4 linked regions of the Homo sapiens genome follow. The protein of the gene in region 4 interacts with the protein of the main gene of each other region in a pairwise test. Each region holds a gene or a part of one and is shown on either strand. Other genes may lie near its edges. The genes, in order: GPR152, STX8, CYB561 and TMPPE.

Region 1 (6,305 bases), on a different chromosome or scaffold from region 4:
GTCACCCAACAGCTTTGGGGACAGAAAAGCATGACACCAAATGTCCAGCTCAATTGTAAATCACATCCCCATTTTGGGAATTTTAAGGAAAAAATGCAGGAGTCCTGGAATGAAGTGAATATGAGATTTGTCTGAGGACAAACCAGCGAAGGGGAACCACACAGTTCCTGCCATCAGACACTGAGTCGCAAGGCATAGGTGGGGTCCTCTCCCATCAGGGCGACCCCAATTCAGGCAGCTGCCACCAGGGCACAGGGCTGAGGCAGGGTCACAGAAAGAGAGAGAAAGAGAGAAGGTGCCAGGTGACTAGTATCAGCGGACAGCACTTTATCACTGAGTCAGGGGCTTCTGGGCCAGCGAGGCAGGAAGGGCTCGGGTGAAAGGAGCAAATGTGTATAGTGGCCATGGCAACAGACATCCCGAGCCAGGGTCCTCAACCTGAGCCCCAAGGGGCTCTCCTGGGTCTCCGGGCCGCCTTGCTGGCCTGCCTTCCCACACAGAGAGGCAGGAGCTTGAACCCGGTGCCCCTGCCTGGAAACCGCCACCCTCCCTCACTCCCACTAGCACCCCGATGGACTCCCAAGGGCCACCTCCTGCCAGCCCCTCGTGACCCCCTGAACTACGCAGGCTGCCCGGGCGGGCGGGCTCCCTGACTGACTGCGCATCTTGATGTGCTGCGAGACCTCCAGGAGCTCCATCTCGGTGGGCATGTAGCCCAGGGTCCGCATGCAGTCACCCAGCTCCCGGTGGCTGATGTAGCCGTCACGGTCAGTGTCAAACTCCTCGAAGGCGGCCTGAAGCTCTGTGGAGGAGGGAGGTCAAGCCCAGGTGGCCAGGCTCAGGGACAGCTCCCACCCCCTGCCAGCAGCAAGAGCCACTCACCGTCTAGCTCCTCGGGGCCCAGTTCGCGGTCCTGCAGGGGGAGAGTCCAGGATGTCCCCAGGGCCAGCCACGGCTCTGTCATCCTTCCTCCTTCATCCCCTGCTCATGTTGGCCTGGGCAGGGCCCAGCCCCATCAGAGTAGGAAAAGGACCCTGAAGCCTCGTGGGACCCAGGAGGAGCAAGCTCCCTTTTGTGCTCCTAGAGCCTGGAGCTCCCACAGAGCCCTGGTGTGAATTCTGGCTCTGCCCACCGCCCACGCTGGCCCGAGACCTACCCTTCCCCAAACCGCAGCAACCCTGCCCCACAGCCCAGGCTCAGTCTGGGGCAGAAGAGGCAGAGGGCCTCTCAGGGGCAGGGTGAGCTGAGCCCAAGGGGTGTGTCTCCAGCCCCACCCCCAGGACCCCCAGCCCAATCCAGGTCCCACCTAACCTTCCCGAAGACTCGATTGAGCAGGGGCCCGTATGTCCTCTGAGCAGCGTCGTGCAGGGAGTCAGGACGATGTCGGTGGGACTGGCGAGAAGAGGCCGGCCCAGGGGATGCAGGGGGTGCGCCCGCCGGCCCCTCTCCAGTGCTGGGAGGGTTATTGCTGCTCCCCGGGGCCTCGGGGCCTGTCTGCTCCCCAGAGCTGCCAGTGCGCTTTCGAGACCCTCGGAGCCCCCTCTCCTTCTTGCTCCTCTTCCTGGTCAACGGGGGCTCCTCTGCATCACTCTTGGGAGTCACAACCCCCGCAGGGGGCTTCTGACGGCCAATGGCCAGATTTGGGCCCTGCTGCCCCCTTGCCTGCTCTGTGGTCATGGGGGAGGGATAACAGGGCTCAGAGACACCACACCCCTGGGCACCCTTGGCTTTCAGGACCCATAAAGCTGCTTATGCACCCCCACTCTTAGAGCTGAGAGCCTAGGATCGGGCTCTGAGGGGGATTAGGGTAAGTGAGGCAGGCAGCCCTGGCCCTAATCCCAGTCCTCTGCCCCAGGGCTGGCCAGGGCAGAGCCAGATGGGTCCAGAGAACTGTCCTTGGTCAGAAGCAAGGGGCACCAGGACGTGGTGGCTGCCATGAGCCTCAGATGCCAGATCTGCTACTTATTAGCTGGGGGATCCAGCAAATTCCCCTCCCAGCCTCAGTTTCCCTATCTATAAAACATGGGGAATAATGCTAGAGCGCAGAAGACTCAGCTCATGTGTGACATGGGCAGAGGCCTTCGTTAGGCAGAGAGGACCAGGGAAGGCATCTCAGGTGGCAGGAGGCATGCGGACAACGGCTGGGAGGTGGGAAAGGATGAGCGAGTGGCCTACTGGGGCCCCCCCATGGGTGACATCCTGGCCAGAGCAGAGGGTGTGTGAAATGGAGGAAGAGGCCAGATCACAGATGCCTCGAATGCCGTTTTGAGGAGCACGGGGGGTGATGTGGGAGGAGGTGGACCTTGGGGTCTTAGAGTCTGCTCTGGGCTAGAGAGGCCCTGGGGAGGAGGGTCTGACTGTCCAGGCCCATCAGGGCTGGGGGAGGGGGTCTGGCTGGTCACTTGGCCCTACTGGGCCAGGGTTAGGGTTTCCCAGCAAGCAGCCCCATAAATAATTGATGTCCTCTCAGCTTGGGTTTCCTGCCCACCCGCCTTAGCGCTGCCGGGTGCCACAAAGCAGGCCCCAGTGAGGGCCGGGGGGACAGCTGGAGTGCTGGGCAGGCAGGCACGCCCTGCTCCTGCTCCTTCCACCCATCGGCCTCTGCCTCCCAGGTAAGCCAGGCCTCACTGGTCAGGGCCCCAGTCTCGGGGTGCCTGGGGCTCTGATCCAATAGGGAATGGAGACAGCAGAGGGGGTCAGCCTGAGGAGGAACCCTGAGGGTACGGAGGGCACCAAACTAAAGGCCAAGTGGCTGGAGCCGTGGGCCGTGGGCAGGGGCCAGCCCTTCAGGGCATCCGTTCCCTCCCCAGACTATACCACCACCTGGGCTCTCATCGCCCTCAAAGGGAAACTCCCTCCCCGCTGCCAGCGGGGAAGGGCGAGGTGGGGCTGCAGGCCTCTTGGATCCCAGGTCTGGGTGCCCTCCAACTCCCCTCACCCTCACCATCCCACCACCATCCCACTGCAGAGCCCCTCCCCCTCTCTTTAGCAGCTCCAGGAGACAAACAGGGGTCACCTCCTGCCTGAGCTGTGGGAAGCGGGAGAGGGCCGCGGTGGGGTGGAAGATGCTGGAGAGGCACCAGGGGCTCCTAGGATGGCCCTCCTGACCCCAGGCTGTGGGGTCCTGAGGCTCAGAGACCTCATCCTGAGCCCATGAGTGACACTCGCTGGAGGGGAGGGGGTTCCCACTGCCCCAGACTCCCTACCTTCGGGTCCCCTGGGCCCATGGGAACCAGAGCCCTCCCTTCTTGGAATCCTAAACACTCGAACCCCAGAGGAGCAGGCATAAAGGGGCCTTGTGATGAGCGGACCAAACGGTCTTCAAACTGTGTTCCCTGGAACCCTGGGGGGTAGGGGTACTCTTCCCTCCCTTAATTTGAGCACCCCCTTTTAGTCCATATAGGAGTTCCACTAGAATACTTTTTTTTTTTTTTTTTTTGAGACAGAGTTTTGCTCTTGTTACTCAGGCTGGAGTGCGATGGCACGATCTTGGCTCACCACAACCTCTGCCTCCCGGGTTCAAGCGATTCTCCTGAGTAGCTGGGATTACAGGCATGCGCCACCACGGCCAGCCAATTTTGTATTTTTAGTAGAGATGGGGTTTCTCCATGTTGGTCAGGCTGGTCTCGAACTCCCAACCTCAGGTGATCCTCCCAAAGTGCTGGGATTACAGGTGTGAGCCACCGTGCCCGGCCTTAGAATACTTTACTTACAGACAAAATTCCATACCTTTAACAATGTTTGAAAGCCTCCGGGTTAGTCTATCCGGACCCATTGGGATTCTACATGGCAGAAGATTAAGTCTGTCTGGACAGTGTCTCATGCCTGTAATCTCAACATTTCAGGAGGCCAAGGTAGGAGGATCACTTGAGCTCACGAGTTCAAGACCAGCCTGGGCAACACAGTGAGACCTTGTTTCTACTAAAAATTTAAAAAGTAGTGGGTGCACACCTGTAGTCCCAGCTACTAGGGAGGCTGAGATGGGAGGGTCGCTGGAACCCAGGAGGTGGAAGCTGCAGGGACTGTGCCACTGCACTCATCCTGGGCAATAGAGCAAGGCCCTGTCTCTCAAAAAAAAAAAAAGAAAAGAAAAGAAAAGTCTGGGTTGAGCCCTGGCACCTCCCTTCCTACCTTCACTGATTCTCTGAACCTTCCTGTCCTCGCCTGTAAAGTAGATTGTATGAGGACTCCATGAGGTCATCCACTTCAAGTCCTTGGCATAGGATAATTACTCAAAAGGTGATGACAATGGCGCAGGGAGGGATGGTGACTTGCCTGGAGATGCACAGCACCGTCTCTCCCATACTCGGTCATTCACACCATCATTGATTCACCAGGCACCCACTCCGTGTCCAGCAGGACTCTGGGGACCCCAAATGGACACTACCATGGAAGCTGACCTGGGTGCCACTGGCCACAGGCCCCGCACAGAGCTTGATGATGAGGACTCCTACCCCCAAGGTGGCTGGGACACGGTCTTCCTGGTGGCCCTGCTGCTCCTTGGGCTGCCAGCCAATGGGTTGATGGCGTGGCTGGCCGGCTCCCAGGCCCGGCATGGAGCTGGCACGCGTCTGGCGCTGCTCCTGCTCAGCCTGGCCCTCTCTGACTTCTTGTTCCTGGCAGCAGCGGCCTTCCAGATCCTAGAGATCCGGCATGGGGGACACTGGCCGCTGGGGACAGCTGCCTGCCGCTTCTACTACTTCCTATGGGGCGTGTCCTACTCCTCCGGCCTCTTCCTGCTGGCCGCCCTCAGCCTCGACCGCTGCCTGCTGGCGCTGTGCCCACACTGGTACCCTGGGCACCGCCCAGTCCGCCTGCCCCTCTGGGTCTGCGCCGGTGTCTGGGTGCTGGCCACACTCTTCAGCGTGCCCTGGCTGGTCTTCCCCGAGGCTGCCGTCTGGTGGTACGACCTGGTCATCTGCCTGGACTTCTGGGACAGCGAGGAGCTGTCGCTGAGGATGCTGGAGGTCCTGGGGGGCTTCCTGCCTTTCCTCCTGCTGCTCGTCTGCCACGTGCTCACCCAGGCCACAGCCTGTCGCACCTGCCACCGCCAACAGCAGCCCGCAGCCTGCCGGGGCTTCGCCCGTGTGGCCAGGACCATTCTGTCAGCCTATGTGGTCCTGAGGCTGCCCTACCAGCTGGCCCAGCTGCTCTACCTGGCCTTCCTGTGGGACGTCTACTCTGGCTACCTGCTCTGGGAGGCCCTGGTCTACTCCGACTACCTGATCCTACTCAACAGCTGCCTCAGCCCCTTCCTCTGCCTCATGGCCAGTGCCGACCTCCGGACCCTGCTGCGCTCCGTGCTCTCGTCCTTCGCGGCAGCTCTCTGCGAGGAGCGGCCGGGCAGCTTCACGCCCACTGAGCCACAGACCCAGCTAGATTCTGAGGGTCCAACTCTGCCAGAGCCGATGGCAGAGGCCCAGTCACAGATGGATCCTGTGGCCCAGCCTCAGGTGAACCCCACACTCCAGCCACGATCGGATCCCACAGCTCAGCCACAGCTGAACCCTACGGCCCAGCCACAGTCGGATCCCACAGCCCAGCCACAGCTGAACCTCATGGCCCAGCCACAGTCAGATTCTGTGGCCCAGCCACAGGCAGACACTAACGTCCAGACCCCTGCACCTGCTGCCAGTTCTGTGCCCAGTCCCTGTGATGAAGCTTCCCCAACCCCATCCTCGCATCCTACCCCAGGGGCCCTTGAGGACCCAGCCACACCTCCTGCCTCTGAAGGAGAAAGCCCCAGCAGCACCCCGCCAGAGGCGGCCCCGGGCGCAGGCCCCACGTGAGGGTCCAGGAACACGCAGGCCCACCAGAGCAGTGAAAGAGCCCAGGGCAGACAGAGGAACCAGCCAGTCAGACAGGTGGGGAGCCGCCGACAGCTTTGTCCTTAAAAACCCTGCTGAGTCCGTCAGGCCTGGAAGGAGGACTTGAGGGAGGGGAAACAATCCAGCCAGAAGTCTCAGGCAGTTCCATGTCAGCGACCCCTGCTCCCGGCCATCAGCCTTTTCTGTGGTTGCTCCCAACACACACACAGTCGCCCGACAGCCCCCAAACCGCAGCTAATGGCATCTTGCGGGGTACTGTCCCTCAACACCCCAGACCCCGCTGACTATTCTTCCCTGGGCCTCAGTCCTGCTGGAGGAAGACAACAGGGGGCACTTTCCCCGGGCTTGACCTGACCTCCCTTTGGTCCTTCCCTCCCTCTCCTCCTCCGGGCCTGGACACAAGGACGTGAAACAAAAAAGTCCCTGAAGAGAAGGGGGCCTCCCAGGAGCCACCAGCCCCAAGCAGGAGCCTAAGGC
Region 2 (7,042 bases), on a different chromosome or scaffold from region 4:
GAAATGCAGGCCGGGCGCGGTGGCTCATGCCTGTAATCCCAGCACTTTGGGAGGCCGAGTCGAGTGGATCGCTTGAGGTCAGGAGTTCGAGACCAGCCTGGCCAGCATGGTGAAACCCCATCTCTACTAAAAATACAAAAAAAATTAGCTGGGCATGATGGCGGGCGCCCGTAATCCCAGCCACTCGGGAAGCTGAGGCAGGAGAATTGCTTGAACCCAGGAGGTGGAGGTTGTGGTGAGCTGAGATCGTACCACTGCACTCCAGTCTAGGCAGCAAAGCCAGACTCTGTCTCAAAAAAAAAAAAAAAAAAAAAAGAGTGAAATACTGATACACATAACCAGTTCAATGAATCTTAAAATAATTATGCTTAGACAAAGAAGCCAGAGCCCCTTCTTCCCCAAAAGGTACATACTGTATAGTTCTATTTATATAAAATTATAGAAAATGGAAACTAATTTATAGTGACAGAAAGAAGTTCAGCAGTTGTCTGGGCATGGCAGGGAGGAACAATAGGAAGAATTACAAAGAGGCATGAAGAAAACTTTTGGGAATAACAATTAGGTTCATTATTTTTATTGCAGTGATGGTTTCACAGGCATATACATATGTCAAAGCTTATCAAATCATATACTTCAAACATGGGCCATTTATGATCATATCAACTACATCTCAATAAAGCTGACTTTAGATTTATTTTCTCCTCCTCCTCCTCCCTCTTCCTTTTTATTCATTAATTTTTTTAAAGATGGGATTTTACTATGTTGCCTAGGCTGGTGTCAAACTCCTACACTCAAGCCATCCTGCTGCCTTGGCCTCCCAAAGTGTCAGGAGTACAGGCATGTGCCACCAGGCCTGGCAATAAAGCTGATTTTAAAAAGCAGAATTAGAAAGAATAATGTATCTGTACATACTGACATTTTAAAAAGTCCATAACACATACTAAGTGGTTTTTTCTTTTTTTTCCTTTGAGATGGAGTCTCACTCTGTTGCACAGGCTGGAGTGCAGTGACATGCTATATCGGCTCACTGCAACCTCTGCCTCCTGGGTTCAAGCGATTCTCCTGCCTCAGCCTCCTGAGTAGCTAGGACTACAGGTGCGTGCCACCACACCCAGCTAATTTTTTATTTTTAGTAGAGACGGCGTTTCACCATGTTGGCCAGGCTGGTCTCGAACTCCTGATCTCAGGTGATCCTCCTGCCTCAGCCTCCCAAAGTGCTGGGATTACAGGCGTGAGCCACCACACCCAGCCGACACATACTAAGTTTTAAAAAGGTGTGGAATTATATATATATATGGAGAGAGCTAAATATCTCATGATTCCATTTATGTAAAATAAGTATATTTATATTGAATATATGTATGTGAATGTATACAAAAGGTCTAAGGAAATACATATTAATCTGTTTCCAGTTTGAGATTGGAGAAACAATATGGAGGGCTTTCATCTTATACATTCCTATGTTGTTTACACTTTGTATAACAATCATGCATACTTCTGAAATTTTAAAAATATAAGAAAGTTTAAAAAAAAAAAGTTAAAAAGCCACAGGGCAAAAGATAAAAAAGAAAAGCCAAACTGACATATTTTATAATTTAAAAAATAAAATGGAGTCTTGTGTTTGGAGACTAATTCCCAGTCGTGAAGCTAAAGTAAAGAGCATAAGCATCAAATTTGCTTGGACTTAGATTCAGATCTGCTCTCTCTGCTCTTGCCCAATGGAAAATCACCACTTCCATGAGCCACCGAGATGAGTGACAGCAACTGTCTATTCCTCAGGTATCCTGAGGCACACACCAAAAGCTTTAAAAGACCAGCAGTTTTCACTCCAATTTTCAATGGGGATGAGGAACAAACAAGGCTCCAGTAGAAAATCTGGTGGCCGGGCACGGTGGCTCACACCTGTAATCCCAGCACTTTGGGAGGCCAAGGTGGGAAGATCATGAGGTCAGGAGATCAAGACCATCCTGGCTAACAGGGTGAAACCCTGTCTGTACTAAAAATACAAAAAATTAGCCGGGCATGGTGGCACGCACCTGTAGTCCCAGCTTCTCGGGAGGCTGAGGCAGGAGAATCGTTTGAACCCGGGAGGTGGAGGTTGCAGTGAGCCAAGATCACGCCACTGCACTCCAGCCTAGGCGACATAGCAAGACTCCGTCTCAAAAAAAAAAAAAAAAAAATTCTGGCAAGGTTTCTGAGCCCACACTCCTCAGGATATTTAGTACCTTGGATAATTTTCTGCTGCTGTTGCCGGATTTCATCAAAACCCAAGCCTCTGGTCTCCTCTGGCTCCTCAAAGAGCCAAGGGTTGGGTGCTCCTCGCTTAGCCTCTTCACTCATCAGGCTGGACCTAAAGAACAATATTAAATGCATGATATATCTCAAAACATGCAGCTCAAATGCAAATTACTCCCACAAGTGCAGAGGTGGCCAGCCTTGAATGCTTTGAAAATTCAATTCAAACACAATTTATTGCATCATTAGTTTATGCCAGGAACTGTATTCAGTGCTGGACGAGATACAAGGATGAATAAGGCACAAGCTTGGTCCTCAGAATTACAGCCTGTTATAGAGATGATGGGAGAACATAATATTTGTACTAATCCTCCAAGAGATGTTTGAGTTAATAATCCTAAAAGAAGTTGGTAATAAATGAGGTTCTTAAATTTCAAAAACAGAAGGCCGAACAGCGGCCTTTTTATTAGGACAAAGTTTGTCTCAGAGGCTACGTGACCCCAAAGGTACAAATATTATTTCTCAAGCAGACACAATGTTGCGACTACAGATTACAATGTTGTTGTTGTTTTAAAAAAAGACCATATAATTTCCCATTAAAGGGTATTTGGAGCCGGGCGCAGTGGCTCATGTGTGTAATCCCAGCCCTCTGGGAGGCTGAGGCGGGCAGATCACCTGAAGTCAGGAGTTCCAGACCAGCCCGTCCAACATGATGAAACCCTGTCTCTAATAAACACAAAAAAAATTAGCCGGGCTTGGCGGCAGACATCTGTAATCCCAGCTACTTGGGAGGCTGAGGCAGGAAAATCGCTTGAACCTGAGAGGCGGAGGTTGCAGTGAGCCAAGATGGCGCCACTGCACTGCAGCCTGGGTAGCGGAGCAAGACTCTGTCTCAAAAAAAAAAAAAAAAAAAGGAGTATTTGGTTGCTCAGAGACAGAAACACATGCAGGGTTTCAATACCAATTTTGTGACTATAATGTAGCATTCATAACAGAATAAACACATTCTGATTTGTCAATCTTAACCTTACTCCCTCTAATAATCCATGTGCCCTTTCTGCACGAGACCAGTTGGTCTCGCTGTCTAAGGAACAGGAAACACATGATTTCCACCTCAGTCCCCATGTTTTCAGGATTTTTCTCCTCTCAAGTAGCTCCTCTCCTCTCCCCACCTGTCTGCATTCTGTCCAAGCTGAGAAGATCATCTTGTCCAGGACACGACCTTCTGACCAATTCAACAAAGAGATGAACATTAGACTCATCTTTAGAGCTCTCAACAGATTCATGAAAAATCATAGAATAAATGATGGGTGGGACATCAGCAAGATGACTGATTAGAGTCAGCTGGTGCTCACCCGCTCCCCCCCCCCCCCACCCACCTTTCTTAGGAAAGGACTAAGGCAATGAATAAACAGCTAAGATTTGACTTCAGTGTGGGAAAGTGCTGAACTGCAGTGGGGAAGTGGAGAGGCCCCTGTGGTGACTGAAAGTCTAGGAGGGCAGCATGAAGGCCCCCAGCCTCTGTGGCCCCATCTCTTCCACCAGGACTGAGGAGGCCTGGACATATGAAGGCCTTCTCCCTGTGAGGAAAAGGTAAGCGGGAGATTCCCACCTGCCCCCACTGCCACTGCAAACACCTACAGTCCTTATTACAGGAGGATCCCCCAGTCCTTGCAAGTTCTGAGCCCAGTTTGGAGAGCTGCTGGGAATTCGTACAGTTGCACTGCCCCAGATTAGGAGCATTCCCCACTCCCCACCCACTCCATGAGCCAAGTTACTACAGCATGGCGCCATCTTTAGACCACAGCTCCCTCTGGAGTGTGCCTTCCTCTTGGGGCCAGTAGCCACTGCACCTTTCCAGCACTGGGACTCCATTTTCATGCCACCAAAGCTACACAGGTGGCTGAACTCCACAACCCAGGGCTCGGGAATGGCTGTGACTCTGGTCCTGCAATGAAGGGAAACCACCCTCTGCACTTTCAGCCACAGAAACAGTCCCACCCAGGGCAAACCCACTCTTGAGCCAACCAAACTGCTGCATACCCTCCTGCAAGCAGAAGGCCCTGAGCAACTGACAGGCTAGCAGAGTGACTACGCTCCTGCATCCCGGATCTATGAAACAGTCGGGCAGTGCAGCCCCCTACAGACATGCCCCCGGCCTGCCCAAAGGCCCCACACCTCAATCAGGGCCTGAGAAACAACCCTGCAGGCTGCCCCTGGCAGACATACCCCCAGGCCAGCCAAGTAGCCATGTGTCCATATCTCAGGCCTGAAAAACAGCCCATGGGTCACCCCTAGCGGCAACTCCCCTAGGCCAGCCGAGCAGCCTTGTGTTCATATCCCGGGTCTGAGAAGCAACTCCTCAGGCCACTCCTGGCAGACATGCCCCCGGGGCCATCAAGCAGACTTATGCCCACCTCTCATGCCTGAGAAATAGCCCTGTAGGCTGTCCCCAGCAGGCATTCCCCACAGGAGAGCTGAGCAGCAGTGTGCCCATGTCCCAAACCTGAGAAACAGCCCAACAGGCCACCTCTGGCAGGCATACTCCCAGACTGGCCAAGCAACCAAGCAACTGTGCCCTCAGCCAGAGTAAGGGCACCAACCCCAACCCCAGCAAGTGAGACCCCAAGTTGGACAACCCACCATGTGAACGCATGCATCGCTGACCTGACAAATAGCCCGGTGAACACATCCCTGGCAAAGTCATGCCACCACCACCACAAAGCCTCTCAGCTGAGGCCACTGAGACACTCACAAATGTCACTGGCATGGATTACAGTTAAAGAAACTACACAAAAACTACACTACTATGCCCACCTGGAACCAAAGCCAATGCATCCCACTGAACCAACACCCCAAGATCCATTCATACAAATATTTCTTTCCCTGCAAAACCTACCACATAAAATTGGAAGAGGCAATTATTCCACCAGATGCATAGACATCAACATAGGGATACATCGAACATGAAAAAGCAAGGAAACATGACACCTCCAAAGGAATACAATAATTCCTGTGTAATAGACCCCAATGATAGAGAAATATACAAAATGACAGAAAAAGAATTCAAAATAGTAATCTTACAGTGAGATACAAGATAATAGAGCTAGACAATTTGATGAAATCAGGAAAACAATTCATGACTTGAACAAGAAATTCAACAAGAAGATAAATACCATAAAAAAGAACAAAACAGGTATCCTGGAGTGGAAGAATTCAATGAATAAGTAAATAAGTACAAGCTAGAGCTTTACCAAAAGACTAGACCAAGCAGAATTTTATTTATTTATTTTTTTGGAGACAGGTTCTTACTCTGTCACCCAGGCTGGAGTGCAGTGGCATTATCTCAGCTCACTGCAACCTCCACCTCCTGGGCTCAAGTGATTCTCCCTCCTCAGTCCTCCTGAGTAGCTGGGACTACAGGGGCATGCCATCACATCCAGCTAATTTTTGTATTTTTTGGTAGAGATGGGGTTTCACCATGTTAGCCAGGTTGGTATCGAACTCCTAATCTCAAGTGATCTGCCCGCCTTGGCCTCCCAAAGTGCCAGGATTACAGGTGTGAGCCACCATGCGTGGCTGAATTTTTGAACTTGAAGACAGATCTTGTGAAATAACACAGAAAGATGGGGGGAAGAAAAAGTAAAATGGAATGAAGAAAGCCTACAGAATTCATGGGACACTATTAAGTGAACAAATATTCACACTGTAGGTGTTCCAGAAAGAGAAAAGAAGGGCAAATGTACAGAAAACATTGAATGAAATAGTAGCTGAAAACTTCCCAAGTCTTGGGAGCTTCCAGATCCAGGAAGCTAAAAGAATCCCAAATAGATTCCATTCAAACAGGACCCCTCTTAGGCACATTAGAGTCAAATTATCAAAAGTCAAAGACAAAGAATTCTAAAAACAGCAAGAGAAGGACTGGATGTGGTGGCTCATGCCTGTTATCCCAGTACTTTGGGAGGCCGAGGCTGGCAGATCACGATGTCAGGAGTTCAAGACCAGCCTGGCCAACATGGTGAAACTCTGTCTCTACTAAAAATACAAAAAAATTAGCTGGGCATGGTGGCAGGTGCCTGTAATCCCAGCTACTCAGGAGGCAGAGGCAGGAGAATCACTTGAACCTGGGAGGCGGAGGTTGCAGTGAGCTGAGACCACGCTACTGCACTCCAGCCTGGGCAACAGAGCAAGACTCCATCTCAAAAACAAACAAACAACAATGACAAAAAGAAACCAGCAAGAGAAAAGCATCAAATCACCTATGAGGGAGTTCCCATTAGACTAATAGCAGATTTCTCAGCAGAAATCTTACCAACCAAGAGAGAATAGGATTTTATGTTCAAAGTACTAAAAGAAAAAAAAAATCTGCCAACCAAGAATATTACATGCAGCAAAGATATCCTCCAGAAATGAAAGAGAAATAAAATCTTTCACAGACAAGCAAAAACGAAGGTAATCCATCACCACTAGACCAGTCTTACAAGAAGTGCTCAAGGGAGTATTACATCTGGAAGTGAAAAGATCATAACAGCCATTATAAAAACATGTGACACTATAAAACTCACTGGTAGAGCCAATATACAAAGGAAAAAGAGAAAGAAATCAAGCCTTATCACTTCAGAACACTACCCAACCACAAAAATAAACAGTAAGAGGAAGTAAGGAACAAAGGATATAGAAAACAGCCAGAAAACAATAAAATGACAAGATAAGTCCTCACCTATTAATAATAACCTTGAATGTAAGTGAATTAAATATCTCATTAAAAGACATAGACTGGATAACTAGATTAAAAAAAAAAAAACAA
Region 3 (4,545 bases), on a different chromosome or scaffold from region 4:
TGGCGGCCACTGCTTTAAGTGACAAGGCACAAAGCGCACAGTACGATCCCACCCAAATTTGCCAAAAACTCACCTTCTGCCTGAGCCACGTACGTGGATCTAAAGTGGAATCTCAGCTCGTTCCAAAAGCTTTGCTCCTCTTCTTAAGGATCAAAAAGACTGATTTCAAAGGGAAAGGGGTCCATTAAACACTGGGGGACCTTCCTTGCCAAGGCTCTTATCAGGCTCTTGCAGCTCCACCATCCAGGCCACCCTCTCAGGCTGAGAGGAAAGGGCTTATCTAACCATGTGGAAACAACACTGCCTCTGCTGGGTCGAGACTGGACAACCGCTGGGCCTTTTCAGCCCCTAGGCCATGATCAATATCACTAATCGCTTTACCTTCTGTGCCCAGCCTGCGGATATTCAATTTCTCTCAGGCCTAGAGCTAACGTCATGTGTCTGGCTGCTAAAAGCTCCGGCTCCTTTTATTACCACAGTAAAGGAAGATAACAGGCGAGAGGTCTGCTGTAGACATTTATTGAATCATCTGTTGCACCAACAGCACATTGTATTTCACAGAAGATTGGCCACAGGCAAAATAAAATAACCCACCACAAATCCGCTTCTGGGGGCCTTCTTCAGCTCCTTAGTCATCCAGTGTTCACTTTGGCAAACAGACCAGTTTACAGACTTTTGTTGCAAATCTAAGGTTCCATTTCTCTCTGTAGCATTCCGGCTAGAGAGAGACACGATTGTACTTTGGTAGTTTGTCTAAGGCGGAGTTTTCCCACATGTAAACATTTCACTATACAAGTGTGTGCCAGCTGATTGAAGAACTGACGGCACCCCTACCCCTGAAGAGTGTACAGTCTAAACAGGAGGCGAACACTGTCATCCGGACAGGCTGAGAGGAGGCGGGGAAAGGGGCTCGAAGGAGCCTGGGCAGACCCTGCTGGGGAGGGGCCTGGACTACAACCACCTGCTCCCAGAAATGACACTGCCTGAGGCAGGAGACACAGCAAAAGCCAACTATGGGAAATCTGAGCATTAGAGGAGACTGGCCCCTTTCTCTAAGACGGCCTCAGGTAGGAAAAGGGCAGCCATTACAAGAAGAAGAGTCGTCAGGTTTGGAAACTGTATATTAAGCCCTTCACTGAAGTACACAGTGTCTGTGTGTGTCTCAAGCTAAGCCATGCTCCTCAAACACCCAAAAAGAAAGGAAAACAGGGAGAGAACAGTCACCAGATCCAAGAAGCACATGATCGGTGTTCTTTTTTTTTTCTTTTTTGAGCCTGTCGCCCAGGCTGGAGTGCAATCTCAGCTCACTGCAAGCGCCATCTCCCGGGTTCACACCATTCTCCTGCCTCAGCCTCCCAAGTAGCTGGGACTACAGGCGCCCACCACCACGCCTGGCTAATTTTTTTGTATTTTTAGTAGAGACGGGGTTTCACTGTGTTTGTTAGTCAGGATGGTCTTGATCTCCTGGCCTCGCACACGATCAGTGTTCTAATCACACTATTTCCAGGCCGAAGCCAAATGGTGACTCAGCTAACATGACACTCTTTATGGGGCTGGAGTGATGTGCAGACACCACGGGGGATGACTGTAGTTGTTCTGACTCCATCCTGACTTCCTGGAAAGATGGGCAGCAGATAAGGAGAAGGCTCGTCCTCCAGAACAGAGGCAGCAGCTCCAGCAGCCCCAGGGGGCTCTAGCCACAGCCAGCAGCAGCGGTTTTTCATTTAAAAAATTATAAGGTTTGTGCCCTCTGCCTCCCAGCCTGAGCAGAGCCTGGGTGAGCCTGGGAGAGGAAACCAGAGCTGAGCCGCAAGGGGGGTGCTACAAGGAGGGAGCCCCAGCAGGAAGGGGCTGCAAGGTGCCCCCCATCCCCAACCCCCATGTCTGGAGCAGCCTGGGAGGAGGCCCGCCTGCATCTGCCAAGAGAAAGTCTGTCTGAAGTCATGGGCTTCTATCCCCTCTCCCACCAAAGCCATCCTAGGGCTAAAGGGTTAAAGAAGAGGAAGGTCAGGACTACAGCTGGGCCACAGCCTCATCTCAGAGCTTCCCAGGGGCCAGTCCCTCCCCTCTCCTGGGGAACCTTGCTTTCACCACCAACATACTTTACACATCATATCACTTGCTCCTCTGCCAAAGGCCGGGCCCATTTGTGCCACGTGTTATTCAGGCTGGAGGGACTCCTTGTTTGAATTCAGCAGCCATCGTGGCCTTTCCAGGCCTGTCCCTGAGGCCCCCCCAGTTTCCCCTGGCCTTGCCCCAGGCATCTGCTGCCAGGAGGGTGGGGCCTCCTCTCTCGCTTCTTTAAAGATCTGTGCTCTGCGACCAGGACCGAACACCCGAAGTCCTACCCAAAGCCTTCTGCACTGAAGGGGGCAACAGAGACACGGGAGCCACACACAATGAACTGGTCTATAGCAGCGGAGAAAGGAGAAGCAGAGGAGGCGGAGACCTGACCCCAGAAAGCAGCACTCAAACAGATGCAGCTGCACCCACGCGCCCGCCTGCTGCCAGAGCCACTCTCCGGAGCCTGCAGTCCTGAAGACGCCTCAGCAGGGGCAGGCAAGAAGACACCCCGCGAACCCCCAGGGCCGGCCGGGCGCATCACTGGGAGCCGGGGCTATCTCCCTCCGTCAGCGTCTTGAAGTCCATGGAGAGGGCCTGCTCTTCCGCCTGGGAAGGCCGCTTCCAGTCGGCCCGGGTCAAGATGTAGAGCACCGCCCCACCGAAGCAGGCCAGCAGCAGGCCCAGCACGTTGGCCAGGACACCCTCGGGCTCAAATGCGCTATACTTGCCCCTGCAGGGGTGAGAGGAAGGGAGAAGCTGCCCAAGGGGTCACAATTAGGCCAAATGCCCTTTGTATCCTGGGCCTTAAAGATGCCATGGGGATTCCAGCACCAGCCCCTGCCTCCCTGCCCTGCCTGAAGAGAACAACCATCCCCCCGCCCCCAACCAGCAATCTCCAGCTATGGCTCACAGACAAAAAGAGATGGGCAATGTAAAAACCTAGATCAATATTCTAGCTCTAAGCAGTTGTCCTGCAGATCCTGCTGCGTGGTGGGAATAAATAGGGTGCCCATAGCCCAGAAGTTTCTTTGAAAGGGTAAAATCAAGAAAGCTAACCAAAGCCAAGCCCCAAGCACCCAAATCTTAGCAAGCATAACTACAGCCACCAGTTGTGACGCCACGAGAGGCGGCTCAGGAAGCCACAGCTGGGGAAGCTGAAGGCAGGGTGAGGTCTGTGCAAGGGTGGCCCAGGCCCTGCCCTCTCCCACCCAGGACACTCACCCGAGGTTGAACAGCAGTGCCTCCTTCAGGCCCAGCAGGGCGGTGCCCACGGAAAGGAGGAAGATGGTAGCACCAAAGAAGATGTGCTGTGGGCGGTAGCGGCTCCGCAGGGAGAATGAAGCTCCGGGGAACAGGAAGAAGCTGAAGCCCACCAGCCACTAGGATTTGAAAGGAGACGGTTCCGGGACAGGGCGGCCGGACACCCCAGCAGCCGAGGTCGGCCAGGCCCACACCCACGTGCCCACGTGGCGACTGTGAGCCCCTCAGCCCTGCCTGGTTTCCTTCCTCCTCAGCACAGTGGTGGGAGGAGCACTAAGCGCTTAGGGACAAGGGACCGGTCCCCCAACGCTTGAGGCCTTGGCACACTCAGAAAGCTGGGCTTGTGGCCAAAAGTGCTGAGTCAGCCATGGGGCGCCTGGGAGCTGGGCACCCTTGGCCGCCAATCCTAGCTTTGCACCCGCACAGGCCTGGGAAGGCAGCTCTCTCACCTGCACACACCCCAGAAATCAGGCCCTTCCATGAGGTACATTTCAGCCCAGCTCCCCTCCTCCTCCCACCTCCCTGGTAGGTGGCCCCAGGCCCGGGGTGTTGGAAGGACTCACCTGCACAAAGTACAGGACAAAGACAAGGATCCCGCACCAGCTGTGTAGGCTGTACAGGTCAGCGTAGCCCTTCTTCCTGTGGTAGTCGAACACCGCCACCAAGCCTGGGCCAGAGACAGGTCATATGAGGACAGGGTTGGATGTGGAAAAGGAAGGTGTAAGATGACCCAGGGGAACCAGCTAGCGGGACTTCTGGGCTTTAGTCCCAGCTCGAGGGCTGCCAGCACCTAGTGGCCCTGCAGGGGATGTTTGGGGTGGGGGCGGGCCCATCACAGCTCTGGGGAGGGAACAGAGCAGGTGAAGCGGCTGTTTGCCATACCTGAAGAGGCAGGCAGGTGGCGGGGAAGGCCGCGCCCGGGAACTCACCAACCAGGGCGATGACGAGCGCAAAGATGTGCAGCAGCCCGTGCAGGACCTTGGTGGTGCGTTTAGCTTCGTTCCTGAAGACACGGTAAACCAGCAGGGCTGTGGGAGGTGAGAGAGGGAACGTGAGTGCATCCGCCTGTGCGTGAGGCCTCCTGCCCCAGCAGCAAGGAGGCACCTTGGTGGAGAGGTGATGTGAGCTGACGGCTTGTAACAGGAGCCTAGCTGCAGGAACCGGAGGAGAAAGCCAGGTTCCCTGGGGACCCTGGGCAGCTCCTGGCCTTCTCTGAGGGCA
Region 4 (4,267 bases):
TAAGATAGTAATTTTTTTGCCACAATAAAAAATATAGTTGAGATAATCAGGAAAAACTAAACACTAACTCTTCACACAGTTAACTGCATTTGAATTCTGTACTCATTTGTGACAGATACAGCTACTTAATACTCAGAGAGTGGAAAGAACACTTCTTTAAAGAGGTCAAAAATCTGGCTACTAGCCCCAAATCTCCTAACTAGCTATTAGATGATATTCAAGAATCACTGTTAATTTCATTGGATATGATAATGACACTATAGCTATGCTTTTTGAAAAAGGATTCATACTGAAGTAATTTTGGGGTAACATTATGTTTTCTATGATTTACCTTAATATACTCCAGCCAAAAAATAAAGAGTACAGGTGGGGCAGGGGTAGCTGAGAAAGGATGGCAGAGTGGTCTCGTCATGCTTGTTAAAGCTGGGAGAGAGGTACATGTACGAAAAGTTTAAAACAAACCAAACAAAACACGAGGGGAAGAAAAGCATGGATGGGTATTTGGAAGGAATGGCAGCAGGATCAATTTATTGAGATTTTGTGACAGCATCATATACTACAGACACTATTGCTGATTTTCAAAAAGCATTGCATTTCAATTTGCATCTAACAGATTAAAAATAAAGAAACAAATGAAATTGAAAGAATGATCAAGCTTCAAGTAACGTTTCTCACCACCTCCCCCGGCCACAAACAAACAAAAAGGTCCATGGTTTAAGAATGTTGAACAAAGGGACTAAAGGTGTCATGGAGACCTGCCCACCAGGGCCAGAATCTGGACAGTGATGGAGAAATTTCTGCTGCAAAAATGTCCGCCGCGTCAGGGAATACAAACCACATACGAGAGGGTGTTGATGTTGTTTCTCAGATACATAGGATGGACCTGTTTTCTTTCTGCTAATAGAAAGCAATCAGTCAAGCAAGGACTTCAGAGTGGATGAAGGGTACATAAGACCACACAATGATGGCATTCAAGAGAAAGAAAAGAGGTAAGGATGCAAAATTAAAAAAAAAATAGGACTTAATGAAAGCTAATTTCATCAAGCCCAGGTCACTGATGAGAAAGATGTAAAATCAAGAAACCAGTGAAATAACACGTAACAGGTGAGTCAAACATTACCAGCCGCATCAAACAGTGGAAGTGAAATGGCACCATCTAGCCCACCTGGTGAAATCCAAAGCGAGAACTTAAAGGGAGTAAGGATGATTCACAAAATGCGGTCGGGACACAAGAAAAGTGAGTTTGGAAGGACAGTGAAGAGAGAAAAAAGAATAAGGAAACCACCAAAATTTCAACTCAAAGATACATTTTAAACTGCATGGTATGGCCCACTGTCAATACCGTGGCTGCCTGGGAACAAAAAGGGTGGTCTCCAGATCCCCCAGAACCCCACTATACACCAGGAGGACAAGGAGGAAAGGAAGAAACCCCCTTTGCCTGCCAGAATGCACATGAGGGAAGGAAGGCAAACCCCTAGCAGTTGCTGCTTTGACACATCACCTGCCCCAGCAGCAGGCAGCTCGCTACCCACTCACATTCCCCAGGACTGGCTGCTCCATGAATCCTCTGGGCACCTGTGCCCAACAGAGTTCCTTAGCAAGCTCCACTGGAACGTTGAAAAATTAACATTGAGTGTTTACTGTGCACGCTGTGCCATGTGGAACTCATGCACAAGGCTTGATGGATCCCTCCTGACAAAACAATCTTGAGGTAGATACGATAATTATCCCCATTTTAGGGTTGATGGAAACCAAGGCTGAGTGAGGGAAAGTCACCCACCCAACGCTGCCCTATGAGTGAGCAGCAGGGTTAGCCTCTCCAGTCAGAGCGAGTGTCTTCACTCCCCATTGGAGGAAGACTTTCCATCACAAGCCTAAATCACCCAGCAGGAAACCAGCCCAGCCCTGTCTTCTCAGTGAGGCCTTTTCTAACACGGGTGCTTATCTCCATCTCAGGATCAAAGGATCTATTGCTTCTGGCAAAAGGGCAAAAGCACCGCTTTTACTGGGAGGTACAAGACCTGGTTTCTAGCCCCAAATCTCCTACATATCTTGTCATACTGCCTGTGCCCTATCTCTCTTTGCCTTGGTTTCCTTATCTCCAAATAGGGAAAAGCAGCCTGTCCCCAGTGAGCTCCCCGAAGGGTTGTATAAAATGAGACAAGGGAGGCAAAGCCCTCTGAATTCCTAAGCAGCCATGTTCTCACCATCACCGACCATGGCGCCCACCGTTCTTCTCCCCTGACCTTGCCCCCAAAGGCCCAGGAGCACAGACAGTTAAATAGCATCCCTCAAGGCCTGGAACAGGAGGAGCTTTGCATTCCAGTAGATTTTGCTGATGCCCTCAATAGAGGTGATCCTGATAGAATCAGAGGAAAAGAAAATATTCTTCTCTAGCAGCCAGAGGGCCCTTCCATCTTGCCTGTTCTCCCAAATTACCTGGCAACACTACCCCTTCCCCAGAAAGGCTCTGGATCAATGATTCTGGAAACCACTTAAGTCCTAAAGACAATTTTAAAACACCAGGAGAAAAATGCTCCTGCTCCTCCCCGCCCCACCTTCTAGAGGTATGCCTTTCTAGCAACCCCGAGGGGAGGTTCATCCCTGGGAGCTCTGCAGGAGAAGGTCCCCATTCCACATCATCTGGAAAATAGAGGGGAGTGCTAATATATGTGACCTTAGTGATCTCACAAGTGCATCAAAAAAAGCAACTGGCCAAGGAAATAGTTAAACCAGCCTGAACATGCCAGGCAGGCCCACCATAAGTCACTGTTTGAGTCAGGCTTGTGACCAAGGGTGTGTAGGCAAGGATGAGTGGGCAAGGCTGGAGGGGAAAAGCAGGCAAACCACTCTGAAGCAGGATGGAGGGTCGAGGACAAGGGCAGGGCAGAGGTGCACAGGGCAGGGCCAGTTCAGGGAGACCGCTGCAGGATGAGCTCTGTGATCTCGGCCCTGCTACCCAGCCTCATGGGTATCCCGTAGTAGGCTGTGCCTGGGCTGACATACACGAATGTAGCCTGGGCCACCTGGTAGAGACCAGCAAAGAAGGGATTCAGGAGATAGGCTGCTACGTTCAAGGGGAAGATCTGCCCAGCATGTGTGTGCCCAGAAAGGATCAGGTTAATATCTGGCCGAGCCTGGAGAGCTCTCTTGGCAGCCAGGGGCTGGTGAGCTAGCAAGATGATTGTGTGGTCTGGGCTGCAGCCCTCCAGGGCCTTGTCAAGATCCATGCCATGGCCAGAGTAGTGCAGGATGTCTGCTTCAATATCGTCCACCCCAGCCAAGCAGATCCAGTCCTCATCCTCACTCCCACTGCCACTGCCACCACCACCACGTTGGGCCCGTGTGGCGGAAATCTTCACGTTCTCATTATGAAGAGGCTGGACATGCAGGGATTCCAGAAGTGCAAACCAGTTGCTGACATCTGACGTGTAGTACTCATGATTGCCTGTGACGAAGTAGGCACCGAGATGTGAATGAAGCTGGCCCAGAGGAGCGACAGCCGTCCGCAGGACCGAGGCTTCTGAGTCGGAGAGGTCACCCACAATCACCGTGATGTCTGGTTCCAGCACATTCACCATCCTCACAAACATTTCCATCTTGGTCCTGCCCACTGTGGGGCCCAAGTGAATGTCTGAGAGGAGCACGATCTTGAGGTTGTTCATTGAGGCAGGCAGCTGATGGATGGGCACCTCCACAGTTTTCACAGCCGGGGGCTGCGCGGCATTCAGAATCCCGGCCACGCTGAGCACAGCAGTCACTCCCACTGCCAGGGCAGGCCTGAGCACGAGCTTCCTTGTCTTCTCAAGGCTGCCCACGACCCTACCACTGCGCCAGGCCAAGAGCTGGTAGGCCTGCTCCATGCCGCTGAGGATGAAGAGGAAGAAGAGCATGATGATGTAAGCACCCAGGCAGGAGTAGGCCGCCAAGGAAAAGAGATAGGGCTCTTCGGCCACTAAAAAGAACATGGTAAAGAAACTGGAATGGGCCAGGGCCAGAAATGCCAGAACCACCACCTTCCAAAGCTGAAAACAGGTTGACTCTGCAGCTGGGGAGTGGCAGAGGTTGCTCACTGTGCTGCGCCAAATGTAGAGGGAGCCAATGAGCAAGAGCGAGTTGACAAACAGGGCAAGCTGCAAGCGAAGCAGCCAACGCCAGGCCCTGAGCTCAAGGCTCTCTGCCAGATACGAGCGGGAGGCGATCATGGACACGAAGACAGTGACAGCAGCCAGGGTGGCCTTCGCGCCTAGGGACAGCTGCCTGAAGA

The links.
Region 1: the proteins of TMPPE (region 4) and GPR152 interact in binary tests that used the Homo sapiens proteins (3 or more experiments, as listed by UniProt).
Region 2: the proteins of TMPPE (region 4) and STX8 interact in binary tests that used the Homo sapiens proteins (3 or more experiments, as listed by UniProt).
Region 3: the proteins of TMPPE (region 4) and CYB561 interact in binary tests that used the Homo sapiens proteins (3 or more experiments, as listed by UniProt).

The regions. Positions count from the first base shown.
Region 1 is NC_000011.10:67,450,796-67,457,100, reverse strand, and holds GPR152 (probable G-protein coupled receptor 152), read left to right. Parts: upstream 1-4,371; 5' UTR 4,372-4,376; coding exon 4,377-5,789; 3' UTR 5,790-5,800; downstream 5,801-6,305. Other genes in the region: CABP4 (calcium-binding protein 4), read right to left, coding at 659-802, 883-913, 1,312-1,677. UniProt on the Homo sapiens protein: Orphan receptor.
Region 2 is NC_000017.11:9,502,813-9,509,854, forward strand, and holds part of STX8 (syntaxin-8), read right to left. Parts: intron 2,351-7,042; coding exon 2,226-2,350; intron 1-2,225. UniProt on the Homo sapiens protein: Vesicle trafficking protein that functions in the early secretory pathway, possibly by mediating retrograde transport from cis-Golgi membranes to the ER.
Region 3 is NC_000017.11:63,431,801-63,436,345, forward strand, and holds the end of CYB561 (transmembrane ascorbate-dependent reductase CYB561), read right to left. Parts: intron 4,353-4,545; coding exon 4,254-4,352; intron 3,992-4,253; coding exon 3,888-3,991; intron 3,444-3,887; coding exon 3,286-3,443; intron 2,795-3,285; coding exon 2,602-2,794; 3' UTR 504-2,601; downstream 1-503. UniProt on the Homo sapiens protein: Transmembrane reductase that uses ascorbate as an electron donor in the cytoplasm and transfers electrons across membranes to reduce monodehydro-L-ascorbate radical in the lumen of secretory vesicles.
Region 4 is NC_000003.12:33,089,922-33,094,188, forward strand, and holds the end of TMPPE (transmembrane protein with metallophosphoesterase domain), read right to left. Parts: coding exon 2,913-4,267; 3' UTR 501-2,912; downstream 1-500.